4 separate regions of the Homo sapiens genome follow, and all the other regions are linked to region 3. The links come from fine-mapping of genetic effects on gene expression. A gene starts in region 3. Each other region holds a variant in brackets. All regions are shown on one strand. Distances are between the middles of the regions.

Region 1 (5,000 bases), 26 kb before region 3:
ACCTGTCCCCTCTCACTGTGCTCTAACCATCCTGGTCCCCTTATCGTTCTGCCAAAATGCCAGGCACATGGCACCCTTATGGCCTTGGCATCTCCTGTTCCCTCTGTCTGGGACGCTCTTCCCCTGGTTGGTGCTGCTCTAGCACTATCAACTCCTTCAAGTCTTTGCTCAGTGAAGTCTTCACGACCATCCTTTAAAAAACTCCAATTCGGCCAGGCACGGTGGCTCATGCCTGTAATCCCAGCACTTTGGGAGGCCAAGGAAGGCGGATCACAAGGTCAGGAGTTCAAGACCAGCCTGGCCAATATAGTGAAACCCTGTCTCTACTAAAAATACAAAAATTAGCCGGGCGTGGTGGCGGGCGCTTGTAGTCCCAGCTACTCAGGAGGCTGAGGCAGGAGAATCGATTGAACCGGGGGTCAGAGGTTGCAGTTAGCCGAGATCACGCCACTGCACTCCAGCCTGGACAACAGAGAGAGATTTTTGATTTGTTTTGTCTCAAAACAAAACAAAACAAAACTCCAACTCACTCTTCAGTAGTTCCTGTTCCCCTTCCTGGCTATACTTATCACCATTTGACACACTATAGTTTCTGCTCTTTCGTTTATGTTTGTCTTTCCCCACTAGAATGTATGCTGCACGAGAGCAGGGATTCTGTCCACTCCAATATCTCTAGCACTAGAACAATGTCTGCTCTGTAAGACATATTCAACATGTGTTTGCTGAATAAGTAAATCAATGAATGAATAAAAAATGGAATGAATGGGCTGAAGAGCAGCATAATGAAGATAGAATGTAAGAACGGTTACAAACAGGTCCAAAGGAAAAGACCCAAGGAACTGAGTGCAGGAGGAAAGGCTGGGAGTGTCATGTTCGCGTGCCTAGGTATATAAAGAATTCTAATACATGACGTGATAGCAAAGAAAAAAAATCAATTTACAATGTTTCATAGGAACTAGGGTTAGACGTAAGAACCTTTAACTGTGGGTCAAAGGACCACAGTCAAAGGTTGGGAAGTCCCTTGCCTAGAAGGCCAGGATAACCCCAACACACCAGCTGCTTTTGACAGAGGAGGGGCTCAGGGAAAAGGGAGGGTCCGGATGGGGTGGAGGGGCATGGCGGTGGCCTCACTGAGGTTCTGCAGCACACGGTCGCGCTCCAGCTGTGTGTCTCGGATCTTGTTCTGCAGCAGAATCAGCTTTTCCTCATACTGGTGCTTGAGCGTCTGCAACCGCCGCTGGCTGTTCTCCAGCTCGTCGATCAGCTTCTGCTTGATTTCGATCTCACAAGTCAGGTCGGCCAGGTCCGCCTGGAAGTTCACCTCTATGGGGGCACAATCAGGCTCAGCCCAGCGTTAGGGCGAGGGGCAAATTGGGGAGCAGATGTGCCAGTGCTGGGGAGCTGGGACCCTCCTTTGGTCAGCCATGACCAATCAGTGACCAGAGACTGGGCAAAATGATAAATCCTAATGCAGGTAGAATGCGGCCAGAAGGAGGAACACATTTAAAGAGCAGTTCCAGAAAGGCAAGGTAGGGCTCAGGAGCTGGCAGGGGGGATCTACACGTCCTTCCCAGCCATTCGAGGCCAGCATCCACCTGTTCCAGATGACATGGGACCAGCTTCAGTGGAGGAGGGTGAGATGGCTGAGAGCAACTTACAGGGCTAGGGCCAGGGCTGGCAGCAGGCAGGGCTGAAGGGGCAGGCATCTCCATTTAGAGGAGAGGGCTTTGGCACCAGTCAGGCCTACATTCATGTTTGCTCTGCATGGACCACACTGGGGAAGGTCACTAAACCCCTGTGAGCTTGTTCCTCTGTGGTGATATAGGGAAGCTCACCACCCCTATGCATACAGTTGCAGTGAAGACTGAAAGAACCTAGCCGCTCAAAGGGTTAAGGTAAGCACAGTGCCTGGCACCTAATGAACGACCAGGAAGTGTTTGCCATCATTCTCATCATGACTGCCTGTTGTCATTGGTTTCACGTCTGGGAGTGCTGGGGCCTGGACACCATTATCTTTGAGCAGGGCCCGACCCCACACTTGGGCACTGGCAGCCAGGCATTGCATCCCCCACAGCCCACAGCTCAGGCCCACGCACCCTTCTCCTCGGGGTCTGAGTCTGAGTCCACCAGGCTCTCTTCACTGCCCGAGTCCTCATCTTCATCCTCGCGCCCTTCCTCCTCCTCACAGCCACTCTCGTCTCGCTCTTCCTCCTCCTGGGCACCAGGCACCAT[T/G]GGGGTGGGCCTGGCCTCAGAGAGGGGAGCCCAGAAGCAGAGGTGCATCCCGACACAATGCCTCAGGTGTGTCAGGAGGGTGGGGATTGGGGCAGGCCACAGCTGAGCCCCCCTGCCCACCCCCTACTCCTGGAAGAGTGCCGCCTCCCCCAACACCACCGCAGAACCCCTCTAGGAGGGCCTCCCCACCTGCATCATCCGTTTGGGATGAGGTGGGGTCCTAGGGGATGGAGATCACCATGGTAACCAGTCAGAGATATAAGGAAGTACAAGGATCAACTGGATGCAGACCCAACCGCCTCCTTCACTCCATACAAGGATGCGGATGGGGCCCCCGCCAACCCCAGCAGGGACACAAGGCATGCATGTGGTGAGGTGGGGCGGCCCGTGCTCCTCACCTCCTCCGCCTCGTTCTCATCCGTCTCCTCGCTGTTCTCCTGTTGGAGTTTTGCCCTCTTTTTGAAGGCTTCCTTCTCGGGGCTGCTCAGGGAGGACAGGGAAGCTGGATTAGGAAGGCTGCCCCTGCCCTGAGCACATGGGCAGGACGGCGGCAGCGGCAGAAAAGGAAGGCTCTCACCAGAGGCCGGGGAGAGCACTGGCTCCTACTCTGCAGAGAACCCCACTGCTCTTCCCTAGGGCCACCCAGAGCTGACCTTGGCTCAGCTCAGTCCTTCCTCTCCTTGGGGGAAAGCAGATGGCATAGGAGAACGTGGGGGAGGGAGGTTGCCCAAAAGGCTGAGCAAATCTGCGCCATGAATTCCCAAGCAATACTGAGGCAGCCCCTGGGGCTGGGGGCGTGGAGGTTCCCTCCTAAACACTGGTGGGCAGCAGTCCTCCTTGGGGACGGGCAGGGTCCACTGGGGCGGTCTGAGGGCTCTCAGGGGCGGGGACGACACTCCACTCACCTCTTCCTCCGCTGCCTGACCTCCTTCTTCTTTAGCCGCTCCAGGTCCTGCTTGGCCCTGCGGATCACCTCCGAGGCATCCTCCATGGAGCTGGCAGGGCTGCCCCCGAAGGCCGGGGCGGCTGGAGAAGCACCCAGGGAGTAGGGGCTCCTAGCCGAGGCCCGTGAGAGGCTGCGGCGCAGGGACTCGTTCATGGCTTCACTCTCTAGAAGCTTAGTCCTGCACAGGAAGAACGAGTGGACGGGGCCGAGTGAGCTGCCACAGCCCTTGGCGTCACCTGGCCGAGGCCCCCAGCCCGCGCACACCTGCCGGAGCTCACTCACTCACCGTAGCTCCTCGATCTCCCGGATGTAGTTCTGGATCAGCGCACCAATGGCCTCATTGCCATCGCCTGGAGTGGGACGGCGGGAAGAAGGGTGCGATAAAGAAGATAAATAGGCCAGCGCGGTGGCTCAGACCTATAATTCCAGCACTTTGGGAGGCCAAGGCGGGCGGATCACCTGAGGCTGGGAGTTCGAGACTAGCCTGACCAACATGGAGAAACCCCGTCTCTACTAAAAATACAAAATTAGCCGGGCGTGGTGGCGCATGCCTCTAATCCCAGCTACTCGGGACGCTGAGGCAGGAGAATCGCTTGAACCTGGGAGGTGGAGGTTGCGGTGAGCCAAGATCACACCATTGCACTCCAGCCTGGGCAACAAGAGCGAAACTCCGTCTCAGAAAAAAAAAAAAAAAAAAGATAAATAGCAGCAAGGGTCTTCAACACCACTGATACTACTGCTCTTATATCTGTGCCTCTAATAGGGCAGCTCATATGGGCCTTTTCCAAAAAGAAATCTATAGAAAAAATACTTTGCACAGAGGTATACAAGCACTGTTGGCAATAGCAAGAAACTGGAAACAACCTAAATGCCCATCACTAGAAGGCTACTATAATAAATTTATTCATCATTGTCACATATGGGACACCATGGCAGAAGATGAAGAGAAGTAGGTTTTTTTAAATTTTTATTTTTTGGTTAGAGCCAAGGTCTTGCTCTGTCGCCCAGGCTAGAGTCACAGCTGACTGCAGCCTCAGCCTCCCGGGCTCAGGCAATCCTTCCATCTCAGCCTCCCAAGTAACATGAACTACAGGCATGTGCCACCACATCTGGCTAATTTTTGTATTTTTTGTAGAGACTAGGCGTCCCTATGTTGCCCAGGCTGGTCTCAAACTCCTGGGTTCAAGTGATTCTCCTGCCGTGGCCTCCCAAAGTGCTGGGATTACAGGCGTGAACCAGAAGTAGGTTTAATATGGAAAGATTTATAAAACATAATGCTAAATGAAAAAGGGAAGTCTTAGAGCAATATATATAATCTCATACATAGAAAAAGTAGTCTATATCATACACACATTTAAGAATGTATATGAATACATATTCATACTTGAAACAAATACTGAGAAAGGTGTGGGAAAATACACACCAAGCTGCTCATAGAGGTTCCTTCTGAGAAGTAGAGAGGGCTTGGGGTGGAGGGTTCAGGGAGAGGCGATTTTAATCTTTCACTTCATATAGTGATGTATTGTTTGCATGTTGAACAAGAAGGATGTGTTCATGTATTACTTGTGCCATACAAAAATGTTTTAAAATCAAGTGAAAAAAAATGCATAAATGAGTTGAACTATGAATTGACTGGCTGGCTTAGTCCACCTGATACTCTGGGGTGGATGTCGGGGGAGGGAGTCCTAGCCCGTTGGTGCTCTGACCTGGCCTGGCACAGCCCAACTCACCGGCCTTGGCTAGCAGCAGGTTGGCCTCCTGGCTCATGAGCTGGGTGACGCGGTTGTTGATGGCATCGATGGCCTCCTGCATGGCTTTCACC
Region 2 (8,200 bases), 340 kb before region 3:
ATAACATTAAAATTTGAGATTTTTGTTTGAGTGTCGTGGCTCATGCCTATAATCCCAGCATTTTGGGAGGCTGATGCAGGAGGATCCCTTGAGCCTAGGAGTTCAAGATCAGCCTGGGCAACATAGTGAAACCTCATCTCTACAAGAAACTAAAATGTGTGTGTGTGTGTGTGTGTGTGTACACACACACGTATGTATACATGTATATACATAATTTGAGATCTTTAAAATATGGGGAAAGTTGGGTATTTGACTTAATCTATCAAAAACTTCTAAGTTTGAGATATCCTTCTTACAAATCATTGATAAAATGTGAATTCAAAATTTGTCAAGATTTTTAAATGATAATATCCAGCTTTAGTAAGCATATAAAGAAACTCACGCTCCTGTACATTGCTAGTCAATTAATACAATAGCAGTATTTTTTAATCAAGTGCTTAAAAATATTTGTACTTAGCAATTTTTCTTTCTAGGTTTTTTTTCTTATGGTGTAATTACTGATACAAATAGAGCTATATTTTGGGGATGTTTATTATGTTAAAGATAATGTTATTCTGAAAACAATCTCTTAAGTATTGAGTAAGAGATTAGTTTAACTAATTTTTATGCATCTGTACAATGGAATATAATGCAACCGTTAAAAATTAGGTTGAATAGGCCGGGCACGGTGGCTCACGCCTGTAATCCCAGCACTTTGGGAGGCCAAAGCAGGCGGATCATGAGGTCAGGAGATTGAGACCATCCTGGCTAACATGGTGAAACCCCGTCTCTACTAAAACTACAAGAAGTTAGCCGGGCGTGGTGGCTGGTGTCTGTAATCCCAGCTACTCAGGAGGCTAAGGCAGGAGAATGGTGTGAACCCGGGAGGCAGAGCTTGCAGTGAGCTGAGATCGTGCCACTGCACTCCAGCCTGGGCAATAGAGCAAGACTCTGTCTCAACAAAAAAAAAATTAGGTTGAATATTTAATGACAGAGGATATTAATGGCCTATTAAGAGAAAAAAAGTTAAAAACTGCATGCTTGGTATGACTCAATGGTTTTGAAAAAATAAATGTGAAAAAATTTATATGAAAAAAGATGAATTCATAGCAAATATTAATAGTTGCACAAGCATAGACATATAGGTCAGAAAAATAGAATTGAAAGTCCAGAAGTAAACCCTTTCACTTATGGTCAATTGATTTTTAACAAGGGCGTCTAGCCAATTCAATGAGGGTAAAGAATAATCTTTTCAATAAATGTTGCTGGGATGACTGGATATCCATGTATAAAAGAATTAAGTTTGCTGGGCATGGTGGCTCACGCCTGTAATCCCAGCACTTTAGGAGGCCGAAGTGGGCACATCACCTGAGGTCGGGAGTTTGAGACCAGCCTGACCAACATGGAGAAACCCCATCTCTATTAAAAGTACAAAATTAGCCAGGCGTGGGGGCGCATGCCTGTAATCCCAGCTACTCAGGAGGCTGAGGCAGGAGAATCGCTTGAACCCAGCAGGCGGAGGTTGCTGTGAGCCCAGATCACGCCATTGCACTCCAGCCTGGGCAACAAGAGCAAAACTCCGTCTCAAAAAAAAAAAAAAAGAATTAAGTTTAACCCCAGCCTCACACTTACCAAAAATTAAATCAAATGGATCAGACTCTAATCTCTAATGTCAGAGCTAAAGTTAGAAAATCTGTAGAAGAAAATACAGGCACAATTTTCATGACCTTGAGTCAGACAAAACCTTCTAAGATACAGCACCAAAAGCGTAAGAGACAAAAGAAAAAAATAGATAAAGTAGACTTCATCAAGTTAAAAACTTTTGTGCTGCAAGTGATACTATCATGAAAATAAAAGACAATTCATAGAATGGAATAAATGATTTGTAATTAATATATATCTGATAAGAGACTTGTAACCAGAATTTATAATGAAGTCTTAATACTTTAAAAAAAAAACAAATTTTTAAAAGGACAGAGGATCTGAATAGACCCTTTTCCATAGAAAATATGCAGATAACCAATACATGAAAAGATGCTTAACATCATTGGTAATTAGAGAAATGCAAATCAAAACCACAATGAGATAGCACTTCACACTTACTAGGATAGCAATATATATATAGTTGGCAGACAATATAAAGGGTTGTCAGGATGTGGAGAAATTGGAACCTTTATACATTGATGATGGGACTGTAAAGTGGTACAGCCATTTTGGAGAATAATTTAGCAGTTCCTCAAAATATTAAACGTAGGGATACCATATGACCCAGAAATTTCAGTCTCCTAGATTCTAAGAGAATTAAACACAAGTATTCAAACAAAAACTTGTACATGAATATTTATAGCAGCATTATTCATGACAGTCAGAAAGTGGAAACAACCCAATATCCATAATAAATGGATAAACAAATTATGTTATGTACATACAATGGAATGCTATTCGGCAATTTAAAAAAATTAAGTACAGATACCTGCTACAACATGGAGGAATCTTGAAAACATTATGCCAAGTGAAATAAATCAGTTGCAAAAGGCCACATACTGTGATCCTATTTATATGAAATATCCGGAATAGGCAAATCTCTAGAGACAAAAAATAGATTAGTAGTTGCTTAGGACTGAGTAGGGGGAAATGTGTGTTAGGGAAATGAGGAGTGATGCTAATAGGTTTCTTTTTGGGGTGATGAATTATTCTAAAACTAGGTGCTGATGATGGTACAACTCTAAATACACTTAAAAAATTGAGTTGTGCACTTTCAATGGGTGAATTTTATGGGATGTGAATCTCAGTAAAGCTGTTAAAAGTGTTAATAGTAGTTATCTCTGATGGTGGGCTTATGGTAATTTCTTTTTCTTCTTCTTCATAAATATCTCCTACAATAAAAAAGTATCGCTGGGCGCAGTGGCTCATACCTGTAATCCCAGCACTTTGGGAAGCCGAAGCAGGCAGATCACAAGGTCAGGAGTTTGAGACTAGCCTGGTCAACATAGTGAAACCCTGTCTCTACTAAAAATACAAAAATTAACCAGGTGTGGTGGTGCATGCCTGTAGTCCCAGCTACTTGGGAGGTTGAGGTGGGAGAATCACTTGAACCTGGGAGGCGTAGGTTGCAGTGAGCTTAGATTGCGCCATTGCACTCCAGCCTGGGTGACAGAGTGAGACTCTGTCTCAAAATAAATAAATAAATAAATAAATAAATAAATAAGAAAGTGTTTTTACTTGTAAGAAAAAAGGAACAGTTATTGGTTTTAGTGGATTATCTCAACAAGGCAACAGAATTTAGTAGAGCGTTTCAGGGGTTTGAGAGCATTTTTTTTTTTTTGAGACAAGGTCTCTCTCTGTCACCCAGGCTGGAGTGCAGTGGCGTGATTTTGGCTCACTGCAACCTCCACCTGCCAGGCTCCAGCAATTCTGTCTCAGCCTCCTGAGTAGCTGGGACAACAGGCACCCACCATCACGCCCGGCTAATTTCTGCCATTTGCCCGGGCTTGTCTCAAACTCCTGAGCTCAGGTGATCCGCCTGCCTTGGCCTCCCAAAGTGTTGGGATTACAGGTTTGAGCCACCAGGCCCGGCCAAAACCATTCTTAAATACATGTCCCTAGAAGAAAACTGCTCCATTCTCCCATTCCATTTCCCACATCTTATTGTTCTCTACTGTAAAATAGAAGGTTTTTTTTCCCTTAAAATAATGAAACCTGTGAGTGTTTCTATTTTCTTCATTTTATGCAGGATTCATTTCAGGCTGAATGCCTTTTCATCTTTGACTTCTCATTGTTTGCTGCATCATAAGAAACTTCTGCACTTCAAAATCTTAATTTTTATGGGAATACATTCAGTGTGCTTTCAGAAATTGAGCTTAATACTTTAATCCAATTTAACAGATTGCATTCTTGCTCTTTCCTTATCCCAGGACCAGATATCATTTGGTTATAATCCCTTAACAGTTATAAATATTAACAACAATGAATGCAGCTTGCAAAAAAATTAAATTTCAATTTAACAGTGTAATAATGTGCTGTGAGAATTAAAATGACTTGTTAAAATATAGCCTACAAATTATATGAAAGCATTGTCGAAATTAGGGATTTTCTGTTTATTATAGCATATTTTGATGTGTTGATTAATCGATTATTGCAGGTAGGTGGATTATTCAGTGTCAGATGATAACTGGACTTAAGTATGAGCGATCATGGTTGCTTAAAAGAGGTCTACTTAGTTGAAAGGCAATACTACTCAAACAGTGGGAAAAATCCATAAACATGTTATAATATCAAATTTTCCTCTTAGATATACACCATGAAATTTAAAATGGCTACATTAAATTGTGGGAGACATAGCCCACAAAATCTGAAATAACTGATGGAAAAGTACTTGAAAAAGTTAAGAGCTTTTTTTGTGTGTGTGAGATAGAGTCTCGCTCTGTTGCCCAGGCTGGAGTGTAGTGGCATAATCTCAGCTCACTGCAACCTCCACCTCCCATGTTCAAGCGATTCTCTATCTCAGCCTCCCAAGTAGCTGGGACTATAGGTGCATGCCACCACACTTGGCTAATTTTTCTGGTGGTTTTTTTTGTTTTTTTTTTTGTTGTTTTTTTTTTGTAGAGACAGGATTTCACCATGTTGGTCAGGCTGGTCTTGAACTCCTGACCTCAAGTGATCTACCCACCTCGGCCTCC[C/G]AAAGTGCTGGGATTACAGGCATGAGCCACTGATCCCAGCCAAAAGTTAAGAGCTTTATAAAATATAAAATATTATCATTATTATCACATGAAGTAAGAAGACTATGTGTCCTTAGAAAGGATGAACATAGGCCAGGCGCAGTGGTGCACACCTGTAATCCCAGCACTTTGGGAGGCTGAGGCGGGCAGATCACGAGGTCAAGAAATCGAGACCATCCTGGCCAACGTGGTGAAGCCCCATCTCTACTAAAAATACAAAAATTAGCTGGGTGTGGTGGTGTGCACCTGTAATCCCAGCTACTCAGGAGGCTGAGGCAAGAGAATCGCTTGAACCTGGGAGGCGGAGGTTGCAGTGAGCCAAGATCGCATCACTGCATACTCTAGCCTGGGAAGCTGAGTGAGACTTCGTCTCAAAAAAAAAAAAAAAAAAAAGAAACGATGAACATAAGCATTTGCAAGAAATATTCAAGTTAAAGGTTTTTCGTTTTGTTTTAATGTTTATTCTTGAAGTCAGCTTTCTGAAAAACAGCAGGAATTCTGCAGAGATGCTCGGAAATCAGGAATGAGGGTAGCAGCTTTCAGTTTTATACCGAGGGGTGATTTCATTTAAACACAGGATCTGGAGTAAAAATGTTTGAAAACCATGACCGAGGCCTGGCGCGGTGGCTCACGCCTGTAATCCCAGCACTTTGGGAGGCCGAGGCGGGAGGATCACAAGGTCTGGAGATTGAGACCATCCTGGCTAACATGGTGAAACCCCGTCTCTACTAAAATTTAAAAAAAATTAGCCAGGCGCGGTGGCGGGCGCCTGTAGTCCCAGCTACTCGGGAGGCTGAGGCAGGAGAATGGTGTGAACCTGGGAGGTGGAGCTTGCGGTGACCCGAGATCGCGCCACTGCACTCCAGCCTGGGCAACAGAGCGAGACTCCGTCTCAAAACAAACAAACAAACAAACAAACAAAAAAACATGACCGCAGATGTATATGTTTAAATCCTTTCAGTATTAATTGATGGATTATGACCTACCCCTGAATAATAAGGTGGAGAACTGAAGGCTCTTCTTTCTTTGGTGAGGCAGGCAGACCCATAGCTGGGCTGAAACCTACTGTCAGAAGTGTTAGGTATGTACGGTAATGGCCCAAGTTTATTATTATTATTTTTATTTACTTTTTTTTTTTAGACGGAATCTCACTCTGTCACCCAGGCTGGAGTGCAGTGGCACAATCTCAGCTCACTGCAACCTCGACCTCCCAGGTACAAGCAATTCTCCTGCCTCAGCCTCCCAAGTAGCTGGGATTACAGGTATGCACCACCACGCCCAGCTAATTTTTGTGTTTTTATTAGAGACAGGGTTTCACCACATTGACCAGGCTGGTCTTGAACATCTGACCTCAGGTGATCCACCCGCCTCGGCCTCCCAAGGTGCTGGGATTACAGGCGTGAGCCACCGCGCCCAGCAATGTCCCAAGTTTATAAGAGCCAAGGATGTAGTTGTGCTTGCATCCCTTGGAGATTATATTTAAGCAAAAGGACAGTGATGGGGGTGGGAGGAGAGTGCACTGGGGGTGTGTGTTTGTCCTTATAAGCAAATGCAAGATTAGGCTTTCACTCAGTGTTATAATGTAATAATTATTTTGGAAGAAAAATTTCACACTGGGGCTATATCAGAGCTTTTCACTAGGGTTTCCTGCCTGTTTCCTGGGCCGCCTTACTCACTCTACTGTAAAATCCCTGAAGGTAAACACTCTGACTTTTTTACCTTTGTATCACCAGCACCTTGGCAGTACCTGATACAAAAATATTTGAATTACTTACAAGATTTAATAATCTAGCAAGCTACCAACAAAATGATAGAAATTTATTTTCCAGCTTAGGGTAATTGATGGCCCTCACACTAGAGAAAGCATTAGCAGGTGCCATTTGCAGATTTTTTTGGAAAAGAATAGAACCAAAGGGAGCTCCTGGCCCCAATATTCTCCCTCTTAAACATTCTTATCCCTACACTTAGAGTTTCCATACTTTTTATAAGGTTAAGTCATGCAAAAGATTGCACTGTAAACCTGGATAGCCTGTTTTTCTGGAAGGTCACAGTTTTAAATAACTGTGCCATTTTAATTATTCCCAAAACAACATTTCAAAAAAGCATTGCAAATATTTTCTGATTTGAATTAGATTTTGAGAAATGTGAAGATGTTACATTTTTGGAGTCAATTAAAATTTTGCTATGAATATGGCTGATACATCTTAACCTAATTTGCTTTCTATAAATAGGCAAGTATCAATTTGTATATTTTCTTAATTTTAATTTTTCACCTTGTCACTAAAAAAAAAACAGTATTTAGTTTACTGTTTAATTGCTTTTTAAAATAATCATAGTAGCATAAATGTGTCATATAGTAGGCTGTGGAATTGATTTCCTTTCATATGTAGAAATTGAAAAATAATAAATAATAATTTTACCTAGCCTTACTTATGTTCATCTTACATGTAGATAGATTTCATAATGACCAAAAAAAGAAAAAAACCTAAAATTTTCATGGGTTACTTTTGGAGGATGCTAGGGAATCAACTTACAATTTTAAAATGTGTAAGTAAAAAGAAAGAATCAAACGATTGTCTGACCTTTCTGTATAAACTGTACCTCAGGGTAACCATTAGTGGATGAAAGAAAGTTTTCCTTTATGGGGATATTCTAGCTAATGAGTAGAGCAGGCATAATAGAATTAGAATATCACAGTGCTGCAATCTCTAATGAAATAATGGATGCAAGCAAAGATCACCAATGATTGCTAAAAGCATTAGGGGAAAAGCTGACGGAGAACTTTATAGCATATGATTCAGCCTGGCAAAGCCTGAATCCACTGATCAATCAGCCTCACACAAAGAGACAACCATGTATTGTGTGTCTCTAATGAAAGTACACAAACCACTTACAAAGTATCTCACCAAAAAATTGAACCTCAATTGAATTGAACCTCTAGATGTATTCATTTACAGAAAATATAACAGATAGAGGAATCTTTTAAACGACATCAGTGGGATGCAATTAGCAAAATTCAGACTGTGGGAAACTTTACGGGAAAAACGACAAATACATTTCAAGGAAAGAAAAGTGAGAGTGACAGAAACAGGGGAGGAACCCATAGTTTAAAAGAAACATACTAACTAAATGTAGTATGTGATCCTTATTTGCTTCCTCATTTAAAGGAACTGATGGTAAAAAAAAAAAAAATAAAAATTCAAGAGCTAACAAGAAGCTCTTCCCTACTAAAGACAAAAACAATATCAAAAACTCCTTTCTTACTGACTTTTGTTGGCGTAAATCCTACAATAATAGAAGTGTACCTTTTAGTTAAACCTTTTTGTCCTGAAATGAACACTCCTAGGAGTCAGCACATTAAATCTGTCAATCACAAACTTTACTGAGTTTATGAGCCCATTTTCCAAGGGCAGATGTTAGTGAAGGACCTGAAGCATGAAGATGATGATTAAAAAAAAAAAAAGTCCCTAGAAAAGGGAAGATAAGATGAAGACAGAGAAAAC
Region 3 (8,157 bases):
ATGGGTGGGGGCCAGAGCTTCATTTCCCTTTTATGGTGTTCTCGGACTCTCCCAATCTGCTGCAGATGCCATATTTACATTTCTCACTCCCACCCCCCAGCCATGCACCCCTCCCTCGACCTCCACAAGATCCTGCTGCAATGTCAGCCCCAGCAGCAGCCTGGCCCCGCCCCAGTCAGCCCACCAGGCACCTGCAGGGCTCCTCTTTGTCTCTGGCTGCTCAGGGCCAGGAAAGCTGTGCTCAAGTGATTCTTGAGTGCTGCCTAGGGTGCATGGGTGGGGGTGCCTCAATCTCCTTCCCTTCACCCAAGCACTGATCAGTGTCAGCTCCTCTTTGGGCTGCAGAGGCCTGGCCAGGTGGCCGTGGCAAGGGGCATCTGCCCTGGGGCAGGAAGAAGAAAGCTTTTTCATTGCCATCTCTGACTCTGTCTAGGAGCAACCTCCTAGGACCCCTGGAATCTGGGTCACATATGACCCAAGGGATCTAGAGACCTGAGAGACCTACCCTAGACCTGGACAATCCCCCGCCCCCTCCATCATACAGGGCTGGGGCAGAGATAGATGTTCTTGCCACATCCCTACCTTGGTGAGCAGCTCCAGATTGGCACTCTGCCGCCAAGACACCCCTCTCAAAGAGAAAAACCCAAAGCAAAAACTGGGAGAAGTGGTGAGGTGTGAAGCATCTCCACCCAGCACAAAGAACACAGATGGCTCAATTTCACAGCATTTCCTGCTCCTGCACCTTTGTGTACCCCTCCCAATAGAACCCACCCAGCCATGTCCTCTCCCTGTCTCATTTCTGCCGGCTCAAGTCCCGGAGCTGTTGAGAATGGAACCCCAGATAAGTCTAGGCAACCCTCCCCTGCTCAATTTTATCTGAGTGCCTGAGGATGGGGCATCTGCATCACACCCTCCTGCCCTCTCAGAGAGAAGCACCTCAGATACACCTCTTCCTCCCTTCCTAGGCCCATCTCCTCTTGGGACAGGACTGGTAGGATTCTCCCCCAAAGCCATTGACTTCCCACAGAAGGCCAAGGCATCATCCCAGCTTTTCCGTTGGTCCCCGCACCCGATCTTTGTCTGCAGATCTGGCTCCCAGGGTGGGTGTGCTGCCTTTGCTAGCTGGACCAAGAGCACATAACTAGCTGACTCGCATGGATGAGGGGAAATTTCCCTCTCTGGTATCCCCGTATGAGACAGCAGCCTCGTGGGGAGGCGAAGAGGAAACGCACAGACGCTCCGGCCTGGGCCAGAGCTGGGTGTGAAATACCGGATTTCCTTGTTTATTCGATTTTCTGATCATTAAGGGCTCCCAAGAGGGGCCCAAAATTACCACCCAAACAAAGCCACCTTCCAGTAGTCGGCGGGGTCGCCGCTCCCCTGCGGCAGACTGGCCAGCGCGCGGCGCCCTCCATCCCGTCCCACGCCGGCCCCTCCTCCGGGAGTGCAGGCTCCAGCCCAAGCGGTGCTCGCGCCCCCCGCCCAAAGCCCACGCGAGACAAAGCCCGAGGCTTCTCCGCGCGCCCCCTTCCCCGCCCCGGGTCCCTACCTGACGGCCACCTTGACGCAGCAGTCCCCCTGGCCGGCCATGGCCCTCTGGAGCTAGGGTCTGGGCGTGGATCAGAGGCGGGGGTCTGGGGGCCAATGCCCGAGGCAGCGGCTGCGGCTGCGGGAGGCGGGGGCGCGGGCGCGGCTGGCGGAGGCTGCGGCGGCGGCGGCTGGAGGTGACATGCTCGCGGGCGGCAGGCCGAGGGGCTCACCCGCGGCCGGCCCCCCGGGGCTGGGCCCGCGCGCCTCCTCGCGCCATCGGGCGGCGGCGCGGAGCTAGCTGACAGCCGGCGGCGCGACCCGCCGCTCCCTACGGCGCGGCACACGCGCACACACCTCCCACCCGGCAGCCACCTCCCGCCGCAGCGCGAACAAAGGGGGCGGGGGCCGATCCGGCCCCGAGCCCGCCCCGAGCCAGCCCCGAGCCCAGGCCGGGCCCCGCCCCGCCCAGGAGCCGCCAATCGAAAGCCCTAATGAGCAGTGGGGGCGGGACTCGCGCCTTTAAAGGGACCTCTTGGCTCGCGGCCACGGGGTGGCTGGGGGTAGGGGGCGGGATTGAAGGGTGGGGGTGGGGGTAGGGGTGGGAGTAGGGGTGGGGGCGCTGGACGCAGACCACGTTAGAACCTCGGCTCCTGGAGTAGCAGAACCTCGGCTTCAATGGGACCCTCATTTCATAAATGAAGAAACTGAGATTCAAAGAGGGGAACTACCGAAGGTTACAGAGCGAGTTCGTGGGTAAGCATGGTAAGAACCCTGGTCTCCCGGGGATCCCACAGCGATTGACGGTTTATAGTTCAAAAGAGCCAGGAAAGCTTCCCTTCTGCATTTATTCCAGTAAATTCGCCAACCCTTCTCGAAGGGAGTTCTTGCTAGCCCCTAACTAAAATTTCCCCCACCTCCACCCTGCAGCATCTTAAAGCTCATGTTTTAGTTGATTCCTGGCCAGGCTCCTAGCCCAAGACTAGCCCCTCCCTACTGCTAGACGACTGTCCCATTGACCTTTATGACCCACAGATGACCCCACTGGGCCTGGCTCACACTCTGCTTGTTGTGGCTGTGGGGCCAGAGGGTCAGTGTGGGAGGCCTGAGCTGCCCTGGGGGAAAGGAGGGAACAAAGGGGGCCCTCAGTTCCGAGCACCTGGGTAGAGAGGCTGGGCGGTGAAGTGGGTGGGGAAGGGAAGGAGGGCAGCTGCCTGCAGGAATGGGTATAAAGGACAAGGAGGACCATGGAGACTTTAACGCTGGGCCTGGATGGAGGAGGAGACCAGTGCTGCAAAGTCACAATTCCCTTCCCAGTCCATCTCCCTCCCTCTGAGCCCAGACGCCTCTTCCCTGCCCCCTGCCTCCCAACATTGGGGCCATTCACAGGGCCCCTCACCAGCTGCCCTCACTTCACCCAGCTCCCTCCCCTGGAAAGGGCCCAAGAGGAGGACCCAGCTGCAGCCCCAGATGTGGATGGGGATCTCTGGGGGAGGGGAGGAAGGGGAGTCTGACTCCAGGCCTCTTACATTACCCTCAGATGATGAAACCATGTCAGAGATTTTGGCAAGGGTGTGGACTGGGGTCTGAGGATGCATCTGTTGGTACCATCTTCCTCCCCTTCCCTCCTCCACTCACACCCCCCTCCCCGCCAATAACTGCTTCATGCAGTAGCTCAGATCCCTGTTTGGCTTGACCTATTAAGGTCAAATCAAAACCAAAGATAATTTCAAGGGCAAATTTCAAGGGCCAATCAACACATCCTTTTCATCCCCATGGCAAACAGGAGGAGCACCGCCAGCAGTGCCCCCATGATGGGGGCTGGAGAAGAGGTCTTGGTGGTATCCTGGACCTTTTATTAGCATTTGAATCTAGAGGAAGCTCTCCCTGGGGCCAGGGGATCACCTCTCCTGGACCAGGAGGTTAGCAGAATGTTGCAGTCATATCCTGCAACATTCCTCCCCATCTTCCAACCAAAATAATTCGTGGGGAGGAGACTAACACATATGGACCACCTACACAAGGTATTTTATGCACATATTCTCATTTTTTCCCTATAACCTTGTAAGCTAGGCTTTTTTATTCTTTTTAAATTTTGCAGATGGGGAAACTGAGCCTCACATGTATGAATTCCAGCATATAAGCAACAGACTCCAGATTTGGACATGTATATCTTATTCCAGGCTTCCCAGATGACCACCAAGGTGGAAGGGATGATGATGTCCAGGCAGAAGGGAGCTAGGCCGGCCCAGGCTTTTCCTCTAGGCACAGCGGACTCCAGGTTCAGCCTTCCCGGATGGTAATGTTGCATTCTGAAGAGCTACTTTCCCGCCAACTCATCTCTGGACTTCTCTGGGGCCCAACTCTGGTTTCCTGCCTGCAGGAGGTCCCCTCTGACTTCCGACAGTAGATGACCCTTCTGACTCACAGTTCTACTGCTGGGAAATGCCTCCAGAGCTGCTGCCCACCCTCTCTGCATCCCTCCAGGTCACTGGGTGTTGAGTCAGGGGAAGCAGGGATACACACGGGCGGGAAACTCAGGTCTCCTAAATGTCAGAGCCTCAGGACTTCGGCTACTCAGAAGTAGCTCCCTCCTGGGCCACCAGGGAGCAGCAGGGCAGCCAGCATCCAGACATCCCCCCTGGGTTCTGCTGCTCAGAGGCTAGATGGAGAACCAAGGTGGGAAAAAGGCTTAAACCACAGCGTGGGGAGATTTAGGTTAGATGGGTCAGAGGAAGTTTAGGACAAGCCTTGCCCTTTTCAGTTTCTGTCCAGCTTCAGCACAGCCACTGCTTCCTCTCTTTGGTTTTTACCCATCCCCCTCTCTCCCATCACCTCTATCCCCTTCCAGCTTTCCTTTCCTTCCCTCCTTCCCAAACCCCAGAGTTTCTCAGGATTAGCTGCCCGTGTGCCTATCTCCCCCACCCCCATGCTTTCCTCACTGTCTCACAGAAACAGGCAAACACACACACATGCATACAACCATGAGCTGGCCCTGAGAGTTCTCTGACTGGACTGGGGTTGGAGCCCCAGCTCTTGTCCTGAGCTGAGGCCCTTCCCCCAGGTATCTTGGGGCTTCCATCATTTCTCTTGACAGGAGCTGTGGGCGTCTGGGCAGATGGGAACCTGGGGGAGGTGTGGGGAGCCCTCTCTGAGGCAGGAAGCTCCCACGCTACTGTAGTTAAAATAATCCGGCAGCAACTTGGGGCAGCCATCTGGGATGCCCAGATCTTCCAGGACACCCAGCTCTCAACAACAACCCTATAGGAACAAATCAAAAACCTAAGAGATACTTATAGGCCCTGGAAATGTCTCCCAAAAGTGGCCTGAACTTGAGCCCTGTTTCCTTTTATCTTCTTCAGGTTAGCACTGGGCATTGGCATTTGCAAAAAAACTCTAAGCATTAAGCAAAACTTGTAGGAGTGGAAGATACAGCGTTCTGGACCTCCAGTCCTAATACCCAGCCACACCCCAGCAGCTATGCATGGTTCCATGGGAGAGCAGGCATAGCCCATCCTGCTGGCATATAGTCCAGCCATATCTTCCAATGCCCACCTGGAGACTAAGCCGAGTTCTGCCCAGCAACAGGAGCTCAGAGCTCCAGAGAGCCTCTCCTGGGGTGCAGACTCAGGAGATCTTAGCTCAGGAGCAGACTTAGCCTGACTTCCTCTTTTATAGGAGGAGACAGACTTAGTTACAGAGGAAACCAGAGTTGTTATAAATAGCAAGGAAGGGAGAAACCTGCTATGGATTACAAACACGCCATCAATCTTAAAACAAACTATTTTTAGTTTCAAATAATAACGAGAGTCTAATTAATGCTCTGTATAACTTCAAATGTGGGATCTTTATCTGCCTTTCTACTTTGTGATGCTTTCTAATACAGTATTAGGGCCAAAGGCAGGAAGAGATGTGGGCAATTCTCAATGTTACCAAATCCTAGATATGGAAAGAACCTGAGAAATTTAGTCCAGCCCTTTCATTTTCAGTGAAGAAACTCAGGCCCAGAGAGGTAAAAGGACTTGTCCAAAGTTGCATAGTAAGGTAGGGACTGAGCAGTGACTAAAAGCCTAGTCCCTGTACTCCAGAAGCAGGACAGTTTCCACAGCAGCACAATAGAACCCAAAGGCTAAACATCTGTGGTTGGGCAGTTGGTGAGTTTATAGCCTGGATAAAAGTCAGGTCTAAGCCAGGTGTGGAGGCTCACGCCTGTAATCCCAGCACTTTGGGAGGCTAAGGCAGGTGAATCACTTGAGGCCAGGAGTTTGAGACCAACCTGGCCAACATGGCAAAACCTCATCTCTACTAAAAAGTACAAAAATTAGCCAGATGTGACGGCACATGCCTGTAATCCCAGCTACTCAGGAGGCTGAGGCACGAGAATCGGTTGAACCCGGGAGGTGGAGATTTCAGTGAGCCGAGATCGCACTACTGCACTTCAACCTGGGGGACAAAGCAAGACTCTGTCTCAAAAAAAAAAAAAAAAAAAAAAAAATTCTGAATGAAATAGCAAAAGACAGCCCAGAAGCTGAAGTGTGGTCTTCTGAGTCACCGAGTTTTGGGTTCACATCCCAGCTCTGCAACTGACTAGCTTTGTAACCCTGGGCCTGTGTGTAACTACTCCAAGCATCAGCTCCCACATCTCAAAATGAGAATAATCACACTCACTTCATTACAGGACTATTATGAGGTTTAAATGAGGTAACGTGGGTCAAGCATCCAGCACAGTGCTCAGCAAAAAATAGATGTTAATTTCCTTCCCATTTCCCTCGGATTCTCTACCCCTTCTTCAATGGATTCTTATCCTCTAACTGGACAGAAGGGCAGATTTGTCATAAAGCAGTCACGTGAGGGATAAGAAGTCTCACATGAGTGTGAATGAGGCTGGGGGTGGGGGCGTAGTTTATGGCAATGAAGTTTGCATGGCACAAGTGGTCAGTGTCAGATCCAGAGGGCGGGAGAAGACAGATTTGCAGAAAATTATCCATCCTCTGCTAACCACTCAGTGACGGGCCTCGGGGTTCAGGGTCAGTGTTTACAGGGGAGGAGGGAGGCTGGGCATGCTGGGTCCTCATTGTACACAAATACCCCGGGCCTCAACCTCACCCATGTGCCACACTGTGCCAAGGGTGTTACATAACATTTCTCTTTTAATCCTCACAACAATCTATGAGGCAAATACTGTTCTCGTCCCCATTTTGCAGAAGAGGAAATGAGCTCAAAGGTCACTTGGCTAGTGTATAGTCATTAGTGCTGTCTCCAAATATTTCCGGCTCTCTGCCTTCTGGCACAAGGTAGGACTGCATGTTCTCACTCTTTGATGCTAGCTGTGGACATGTGACCAACTTTAACCAATAAAACGTGGCGGAACTGATGTGCGTCAGCTCTAGTGGAAGCATTAAGACTCTGGCACCCTCACACCTATGTTGTTCATAGAGTGTAAATGAGAAATAAACTTTTATTGTTAAACCACTGAACTTACAAGTTGTGTGTTGCCACGGCAAGCCTGGCCTACCCTGACACAGTTAGGAAGAGGCAGAGCCAGAGTTCGGAGGCCTGGTCTGTAAAGATGCCAGATGGCGTAAGTACCTTCCAGAGACTGACCTGCTTGCCTAAGACACACAGGAGCCCCTTTTTGGGCTACTTAGAGCCCTGTGGGGCAGGGGAGGAGGGTAGGCAGCCTCCCTACCCTTATCTCTTTCCCCCCGATTTGACTGTGATTTTGCGGGGTTTCCAGGTTGCTGAGCCGGGGGGACTGAATAAATGAGTGTGGTTTTGTATGAACCCTTAGGGGCTCATAGTCTTCTGGTTGGCTGTGCTGAGCTACTTATCAGGACTCTCTAGGAGACACTCTGAGAAGTAATTGGAAAATTCCGACTTCCTCTCTGCCCATCACCCAACTAGGAAATAGTTGGGTATCAGGACACGCCTGCATTCACTCCCAAATCAAAGATCGACCCTGTCAAGTCACTCTTTGCTTTGGGACTCAGTAACTCCTCTGTGAAATGGAGCCACTTCAAAGGGTTAGGGTAACTGCTCGGAGATTCTAGAGGAAGCCCATTTCGGATTGTATAGATCTTCTCAGAGGTGCCTGCAAAATAAGAACAGCTACTATTTCTGAACATTGTGCTGGGCGTTGCACTAAATGCTTCAGATCCATACAGTCATGGAATGCTCACACAACCCATGGAGGTAGGAACATAAAGAAAACCAGGACACCAAGAGGGGCACAAGGTCACACTGCAAGTGGTGGGCAGGGTTCAAACTCAAGCATGCTGCCTGCCAGTTTCGTCCTCTGCTGAATTACAGGGACGGAAAAGGATGAATCTTGTCTTGGCAGCTGCTGAGCTGCCAAGAAAGTGAGCACAGCTCCCTAAGGAATTATGTGCTTCACGTGTCTACATAAAGACTTGCCCATGAAAGACCCCAGCAGCTTTGTCATAGGCCCAAACTGGAAACACAACAAATGTCCATCGACAGGGGAATGGATTAAGAATCTGTGGTGTATCATATGGTGGGATACTATTTAGCAATAAAAAGGAATGAACTATTGATACATGATACAATATGGATGAATCCCCAAATTAATTATGCTCAGTGAAAGAAGCCAGACCAAAAAGAGCACATGCT
Region 4 (8,200 bases), 240 kb before region 3:
TGTAGAAACAGGGCCTCACTGTGTTGCCCAGATAGTTTTGAACTCCTGGGCTCAAGTAGTCCTCCTGCCTTGGCCTCCCAAAGTGCCGGGATTACAGGAATGACCACCATGCCCAGCCTGCGTTTCATTTTCTTCGTGGTGTCTTTCAAGGAATTTTAAATTTTGATGAAGACCAGTTTACAATTTTTTTCTTTTTTAGTTAGTGCTTTTATGTCCTAAGAAATCTTTTCTTGCCTATATTATGGTTGTAAAGATTTTTTTCCCCTATGTTTTCTTCTCGAAGTTTACAGTTTTAGCTTTTTCATTTAGAACTATGATTCATTTTGGATCAGTTTTTTTGTATAGTGTGGTCGAGGTTCATTTTACCCTTTTTTTTTAACAAGATTATCTAGTTGTTCCAGTAGTATTTATTGAAGACTGTTGTCTCCTCATTGACTGACGTCGACACCTGTGTCTCTTCCATTGATTTAGATGTCTGTTAGGCTGTGCCACACAGTCTTGACTAATGTAGCTTCATAATAAGTCTTGAAACTTGTTAGTGTAAGCCATCCGGCTTTGTTGTTTTTTATCAAAATTGTTTTCGTTATTCTAGGTTCTTTGCATTTCCATATAAATTTTAGAATCAACTTGTCAATTTCTATTAAAAAAAAAGCTTGCTAGGATTTAGATTGGAATTGTGTTGAATCTATAGACCATTTTGGGAAGAATTAATAGTTTAACAATTTGTGTCTTCCAGTGAAAACATGGTTTCTCTTCTCATTTAAGTATTCTTTAATTTATTTCAGTAGTGTTTTATAGTTTTTAGCATATGAGATTCATATGCACTTTGTTGAATCTTTCATATTTTTGATTTGGAATTGCATTTCAGATTTAATTCTTAAATTATTTATTGCTAATATATAGAAATACAATTGAATTTTGAACATTTTTTTTATCCTGTGACCTTGCTATATACATTTATTCCTAGTATGTTTTTGTGGATTTGTCAGAACTTTCAACGTAAACAATCATGTTGTCTGTGAATAAACACAGTTTTACTTCTTCCTTTCCACTATGTATGTGGTCTGCTCCCCGCTTCTTATTGCACTGCCAAACACTAACAGTTAATGTTGAGTAAAAGTGGTGAGACCAGACATTTTTGTCTTATTCCTCATCTTATCAGGAATCTGTTGAGTTCCCATTGTTAAATGTGATATTATCTGTAGGATTTTTGAAGATGTTCTTTTTCGGGTTAAGGGAGTGCCTTTCTGTTCCACGTTTGCTAAGAAATATATGTATGTTTATGTTTTTAAAATCATGAATAACTGCTGTATTTTTCAAATGCTTTTTCTGCCTCTATTAAGATAATCATATGGCTGTTCTCATTTATCCTGTTAATAGGTGAGTTACGTTGATTTCAAATATTAAACTGGTCTTGAATTCCTGGAGTTAAACTCAGTTGGTCACGGTAAATTATCTCTTTTATATATTGTTAGGTTTAATTTGTTAATATTTTCTCAAGGGTGTTTACAGCCATGTTCGTGAGAGATATTTTTCTTCTCATTTCTTTGTCTTGTGTTAGCATCAGGGTAATACTGTTTTTATATAATGAGTTGCAAAGTGTTCCCTACTCCACTGTTTTCTGAAAGACTTCACTTAGGATTTCTGTAATTTCTTCCTTAAATGTGGGGCAGAATTCACTAGGTATGCCACCGGGGCTTGATGTTTTCTTTTTTTTTCTTTTGTTTTTTTTTTTTTTGAGGTGGAGTCTCACTCTGTGCCCAGGCTGGAGTGCAGTGGCCTGATCTTGGCTCACTGCAACCTCTGCCTCCCAGGTTCAAGCGATTCTCCTATCTCAGCCTCCGAAGTAGCTGGGATTACAGGTGTCCCCCCACCACACCTGGGTAATTTTTGTATTTTTAGTAGAGACAGGGTTTCGCCATGTTTGCCAGGCCGGTCTCGAACTCGTGACCTCAAGCAGTCCATCTGCCTTGGCCTCCCAAAGTGCTGGGATTATAGGCGTGAGCCATGTGCCTGGCTGATATTTTCTTTTTTTTGAGACAGAGTCTTGCTCCGTTGTCCAGGCTGGAGTGCAGTGGCGTGATCTTGGCTCACTGCAACCTCTGCCTCCCAGGTTCAAGTGATTCTTGTGCCTCAGCTTCCCAAGTAGCTGAGATTAAAGGCATGTGCCACTACTCCTGGCTAATTTTTTGTATTTTTAGTAGAGAAGGGGCTTCATCCATGTTGGTCAGGCTGGTCTCAAACTCCTGATCTCAAATGATCCACCTGCCTTGGCCTCCCAAAGTGCTGGGATTACAGGCGTGAGCCACGGCACCCAGCCAATTTTGGTTATTTTATATCTTTTAAGACATTTGTCCATTTCATCTAAATATGTCAATTTATTGTCATTAAGTTGGTTATAATACTCCCTTATTATCTTTTTAATATCTATAGAACCTGTGGTGATATCCCTTTTTACTTTCCTGGTGTTATTAATATATATGGAGGTTTATCAATTCTGTTAATCTTTTCTAAAAACCAGCTCTTTGTTTCAGTTTTTTAAACTAATTTTTGCTTGTTTTCTGTTTCATTGATTTCTGTTCTTTATTATTTCTTTTCTTTTTCTTATTTTGGCTTTTTAAAAAAATCTAGCTTCTTAAGATGTACTCTTAGGTCATTAATTTTAAAGCTTTCTTCTTTTCTGATACAAGCACTTAAAGCCATAAATTGCTTTCTTTTTTTTTTTTTTCTTTGAGATGGAGTCTTGCTCTGTCGCCCAGGCTGGAGTGCAGTGGCGCAATCTCAGCTCGCTGCAGCCTCCGCCTCCCGGGTTCAAGCGTTTCTCCATCCTCAGCCTCCTGAGTAGCTGGAATTATAGGCGCCCACCACCATGCCCAGCTAATGTTTGTATTTTTAGTAGAGACGAGGTTTTGCCATGTTGGCCAGGCTGGTCTGGAACTCGACCTCAGGTGATCCACCAACCTCAGCCTTTTAAAGTGCTGGGATTACAGGCATGAGCCACTGCACCCAGCCTAAGCAAGATTTTCGATGTAGATGAAATAGCCTTCCTTTAGAAGAGGATGCCATATAGGACTTGCATAGCTAGAGAGGAGAAGTCAGTGACTGGCTTCAGTGCTTCAAAGGACAGGTTGACTGTTTTGTTATGGGCTATGTGGGCTAATGTAGCTGGTGACTTTAGATCGAAGCCAGTGCTCATTTACCATTCTGAAAATCCTAGGGCACTTAAGAACTATGCTAAATTGACTATGCCTGTGCTCTATAAGTAGAAAAACAAAGCCTGGATGACAGCACATCTATTTATAGCATGGTTTACTGGATATTTTAAGCCCTTATTGAGACCTGCTCAGAAAAAAAAAAAAAAGATTCCTTTCAAAATATCACTGCTCGTTGACAATGCGCGTGGTCACCCAAGAGCTGTGATGGAGAGGGACAAGGGCATGAATGTTTTCATGCCTGCTAACACAGCTTCTGTTCTGTGGCCCATGGATCAGGGAGTAATATTGAATTTCAAGTCTTTTTATTTAAGAAATAACATTTTCTAAGTATATATCTGCTATAGATAGTGATTCCTCTGTTGGATCTGGGCAAAGTAAATTTAAAACCTTCTGAAAAGGATTTACCAATCTAGATGCCATTCATGATTCGTGGGAGGAGATCAAAATATCAACATGAACAGGAGTTGGGAAGAAGTTGATTTCCAACTTTTAGGGATGACTTTAAGGGGTTCAGTACTTCAGTGGCAGAAGTATCTGCAGATGTGGTAGAAATAGGAAGAGAACTATAATTAGAAGTGAAGCCCGGAGATAGGACTGAATTGCTGTAATCTCATTATCAAAATTGTCTGGATGAGGAGTTGCTTCTT[A/G]CAGATGAGCAAAGTGGTTTCTTGTGATGGATCTATTCCTGGTGGGGATGCTGTGAACATTGTTGAAATGACAACAAACAATGGATTTACAGTATTATATATCAAGTTAGTTGGTGAAGCAGCGGCAGAGTTTGATAGGACTGACTCCACGTTTGAAAGAAGTTCTACTGTGGGTAAAATGCTATCAAATGGCATCACATATTATAGAGAAATTTTTGGTGAAAGAAGAGCCAATCAGCACGCAAGTTTTGTTGTCTCAAGAAATTGCCACAGCCATCCCCTCCTTCAGCAATCACCACTCTGATCGAACAACATGGAACCAAGACCCTCCACCATCAAAAATACTGTGTTTCATTGAAGGCTTGGGTGATTGTTAGCATTTTTTAGCAATACAATATTTTTAAATTAAGTTAGGTACATTGGTTTTTTAGACATAATGATATTGCACTCAATAGATTACAGTATAAGCATAACTTTTATATGCCTGGGGATATTAAAAAATTGTGTGACCCGGTTTATTATGCTACTTGCTTTATTGCAATGGAATGGAATGGAACCTGCAATATATCCAAGGAGTGCCTGTAGTTGGAATCATAAAGAATGTAGCCTTTTCACATTGACTTTTTATTTAATAATGTGCACTTAAATTTCCTCCCATGTATTTTTATAACTTGATTGCTCACATCTTTTTAGCACTGAGTAATATTTTGTTGTCTGAATGTGCTACAGTTTTAAAAATTCATATATCAACTGAAGAATGTCTTGGTTGCTTCCAAGTTTTGGCAATTATGAATAAAGCTTACATAATCATCTGTGTTTAGGTTTTTATGTGGACATAAGTTTTCAGCTCCTATAGGTATATACCATGGAGTGTGATTGCTGGATCATAGAGTAATAATATGTTTAGTTTTGTAAGAAATCACCAAACTCTCTTCCAAAGTGGCTGTATCATTTTGGATTCCCACTAGCAGTGAATGAAAGTTCCTGTTGTTCCACAGGAACTTTCCAGTCCAGTATTTGGTGTTGTCAGTGTTGTGGATTTAGACGTTCTAATAGGTTTTAATTTGCATTTCCCTGATAATATATGACTTAGAACATCTTTTCTTTTTTTCTTTTTTTTTTTTTTTGAGACGGAGTCTCACCCTGTTGCCCAGACTGGAAGTGCAATGGCACAATCTCGGCTCATTGCAACCTCCGCCTCCTGGGTTCAAGCAATTCTCCTGCCTCAGCTACCCAAGTAGCTGGGATTACAGGTGCCTGCCACCATGCCTGGCTGACTTTTGTATTTTTTTTTTTTTTTAGTAGAGACGGAGTTTCACTATGCTGGCCAGGCTGGTCTCGAAATCCTGACCTCGGGTGATCCGCCCACCTCAGCCTCCCAAAGTGCTGGAAATACAGTCATGAGCTACTGTGCCCGGCCAGAACATCTTTTCATATGCTTACTTGCCATCTTTATATCTTCTTTGGTGAGGTGTTTGTTAAGGTTGTTGGCCTGTTTTTTAATTGGGTTGTTTTCTGAGTTTTAAGAGTTTTTTGTATATTTTGGATAACAGTCCTTTATCAGAGATGTCTTTTGCAATTGTTTTCTCCCAGTCTGTGGCTTATGTTTTTCATTCTCTTGACACCCTTCCGCAGTGCAAAATTTTTTATTTTAATAAAGTCCAGCTTATCAATTATTTTTTCATGGATTGTGCATTTGGTTTTGTATCTAAGAAGTCATTGCCAAGCCCAATATTATCTAGTTTTTCTTCTGTTATCTTCTAGAAGTTTTATAGTTTTGTTGTACATTTAGGTCTGTGATTCATTTTGAGTTAATTTTTATGAAGGCTGTAAAGTCTGTCTAGAGTCTTTTTTTTTTCATGTGGATGTCTGGTTGTTCTAGCACCATTTGTTAAAAAGACTGTCTTTCTCCACTGCATTGCCTTATTTGCTTCTTTGTCAGAGATCAGTTGACTTTGTTCGTGTGCTCTATATTCTGTTCCGGTGATCTATTTGTTCTTTTGCCAGTACCACATTGTGTTGATTACTGAATCTCTGTAGTGAGCTTTGAAGGTGGGTAGCATCAGTTCTCTAACTTTATTCTTCTCCTTCAATATTATTTGCTATTCTAGGTCTTTTGCCTCTCCATGTAAACTTTAGATCAATTCATCAATATCTACAAAATAACTTGCTGGAATTTTTACTGGGATTGCATTGAATCTGTAGATCAAGTTGGGAAAAACCGGTATCTTGATGATACTGAGTCTTTTTATCCATGAACATGGACTCTCCATTTATTTAGTTCTTTGATTTTGTTAATCAGTTTTATAGCTTTCCTCACATAGATCTTATGCATTTTTTTAGATTTATACTTAGTATTTATAATTTGGGGGTGCTAATGAAAATGGTATTTTGTTTTTAATTTCAAATACCACTTGTTCATTGTTGGTATATAGGAATGTGTTTGGCTTTTGTATGTTAACCTTGTATCCTGCAACCTTGCTATAATATGGTGGTAAGGTGTGGGGGAGAGGAGAAGCATTCTATAGTCCTATAATTAGGTCTCAGGCTTTTAGTGAGCCTATGCCTCTGGACTGTGGACTTCATAAATGTTTCTCAGGTTTTTTTCTCCTTCTTTAGGTGGGTCAGGAAGGCTAGAGGGGACAGGATTTGAATGTTTCCCTCTCCCAGGTCAGTTAGGCTTTGATAGTACCTTAACAGATTAAGCTCTGGTTTAACCTAGTTTCTTCTGAGGGCAGGCCTTGTTAAGAAGAATGGAGTGCTCTAGTATATTTAGAAATTCTCTCTCCCCTCCCACTGGAACCATGGGGGCAGCGGGGCTGGGGGGAAGGGTTGGGGACAGTTTCTGATATTTATTGTGAGAACCTGTTCAAGCCAGAGCCTGGTTGAGCTCTTGAAGGTAAAGCTCCCTATAACTTGATCCCTTGGAGTTTTAACTCTCAGACTTGTTTACTCTGAACCTGCAACAATTCATCAGTTACAGTTTAGTTTTCCTTCTCCAGCACTGGTTCCCTTGGCTGTTTCTGTTTGTGAGTCTTTGCTCTGGTAATCTGTGACTTCCCTTTGCCTGTCTGTCTCTCCATCCTTTGGGCTGGTGGTTTGCCTTGTGTTCTCACCTTTCTTTCAGATCTACCTAGAATTGTTGATACTTCATTCTGTTCAGCTTTGTGCTTGTTGTTAGAACAGAGTGACTGCTAAGGTTTTTACATGCAGACCAGAAACTAAAGTCTTCTTTCTTTTACATTTTTTTGTAGTGCACATTTGCTAGTGACATCTTTAGATCAATAAACATTGAGAAAAGTTATCTTTATTTTACCTCCTTTTTTTTTTGAGACGGAGTTTTGCTCTTGTTGCCCAGGCTGGAGTGCAATGGTGCCATCTTGGCTCACTGTAACCTCCGCCTCTCAGGTTCAAGTGATTCTCCAGCCTCAGCCTCCCAAATAGCTGGGATTACAGGCACATGCCACCATGCCTGGCTAATTTTTGTATTTTTAGTAGGGATGGGGTTTCACCATGTTGGTCAGGCTGGTCTCGAATCCCTGACCTCAGGTGATCCACCTGCCTCGGCCTCCCAAAGTTCTGGGATTACAGGCGTGAGCCACTGCATCCGGCCTTTACCTCCATTTTTGTAGGTTATTTTTGCTGAGTAAGATGCATTCTGTGTCTTATGGCTTGCATTGTTTCTGAGAGAAGTCAGATGTTATTCTTATCAGATTTCCTCTGTATGTAATGTGTAATTTGATTTTCTTCAGCTGCTTTTAAGATTTCTTTCTTTTTTTTTCGGAATTTGGTTATGGTGTGCCTTAATGGATTTTTCTTTGTATTTACCCCGTTGGGGATTTTTAAAGCTACTCATATCCTTGAGTTTATAGTTTTCATCAAAATTGGAAAAATTTCAGCCATTATTTCTCTGAATATTATCCCCCACCATGTTTTTTAGACTCCATTTGTATAACTGCTTGCTATTGTCCCACACACAGGTCACCGATGAGGCTCTGAGGCTTTGTTCATTTTTTTAAGGCCTTTTTTCTTTTTATGCTTTAGTTGGATAGCTTGAAATATCACTGGAAGTTGAGAACAGGAAAATCTGTTATATTTACAGTCTTATTCCTGTGGTCCCTTTCAAAGATGTATTCTGTTGCAGTTAGCACCTGTGATTGTTATTCTTTTCCTTTAAGACCCTCTTAGAGATTTACTTTTTGTGCGAGCTAGTTAGATATGTTAAAAATTAAATAAATAGTAAGGCCAATATGGTGAAGCCCTGTCTCCACTAAAAATACAAAAATTAGCTGGATGTGGTGGCACGCGCCTGTAATCTCAGTTACTCAGGAGGCTGAG

Alleles and levels. Positions count from the first base shown, and alleles are read on the strand shown. Sizes are in standard deviations (SD) of each study's normalised expression. Not every link is listed here.
For the expression in whole blood of the gene that starts at base 1,921 in region 3, G is the high allele of the variant in region 4 and A is the other (large effect, 1.1 SD a copy in Lepik 2017).

What was found. PIP is the estimated chance that this variant, and not a neighbour inherited with it, causes the effect.
Region 1: its variant is fine-mapped to the expression of KIF21B in whole blood (INTERVAL, PIP above 0.99).
Region 2: its variant is fine-mapped to the expression of KIF21B in blood mononuclear cells (TOPMed, PIP above 0.99).
Region 4: its variant is fine-mapped to the expression of KIF21B in whole blood (Lepik 2017, PIP 0.95).

The regions. Positions count from the first base shown.
Region 1 is chr1:200,997,253-201,002,252 of GRCh38, forward strand. It overlaps KIF21B (kinesin family member 21B), which reads right to left. Exons shown (of 35, transcript NM_001252102.2): 9 at 4,909-5,000; 10 at 3,465-3,528; 11 at 3,138-3,356; 12 at 2,631-2,712; 13 at 2,097-2,214; 14 at 1,132-1,323. Among named protein-coding and RNA genes, the nearest start is that of KIF21B, 24 kb to the right of the region's middle. RefSeq lists an enhancer at 2,850-3,350. The variant T/G (reference allele first, on the strand shown) is at 2,233.
Region 2 is chr1:200,684,472-200,692,671 of GRCh38, forward strand. DDX59-AS1 (DDX59 antisense RNA 1) reads left to right here. Exons shown (of 3, transcript NR_110787.1): 2 at 5,838-5,959. Among named protein-coding and RNA genes, the nearest start is that of DDX59, 19 kb to the left of the region's middle. The variant C/G (reference allele first, on the strand shown) is at 4,659.
Region 3 is chr1:201,021,794-201,029,950 of GRCh38, forward strand. KIF21B (kinesin family member 21B) reads right to left here and starts at 1,921. Exons shown (of 35, transcript NM_001252102.2): 1 at 1,550-1,921. The coding sequence starts at 1,590. It overlaps LOC101929305 (a long non-coding RNA gene), which reads left to right and starts at 2,156. Exons shown (of 4, transcript NR_188464.1): 1 at 2,156-2,292; 2 at 3,711-3,826. RefSeq lists enhancers at 116-723, 6,768-7,062 and silencers at 1,328-1,377, 1,778-2,137, 2,489-2,646.
Region 4 is chr1:200,783,670-200,791,869 of GRCh38, forward strand. The region is part of intron 2 of CAMSAP2 (calmodulin regulated spectrin associated protein family member 2); the gene reads left to right. Among named protein-coding and RNA genes, the nearest start is that of CAMSAP2, 49 kb to the left of the region's middle. The variant A/G (reference allele first, on the strand shown) is at 3,863.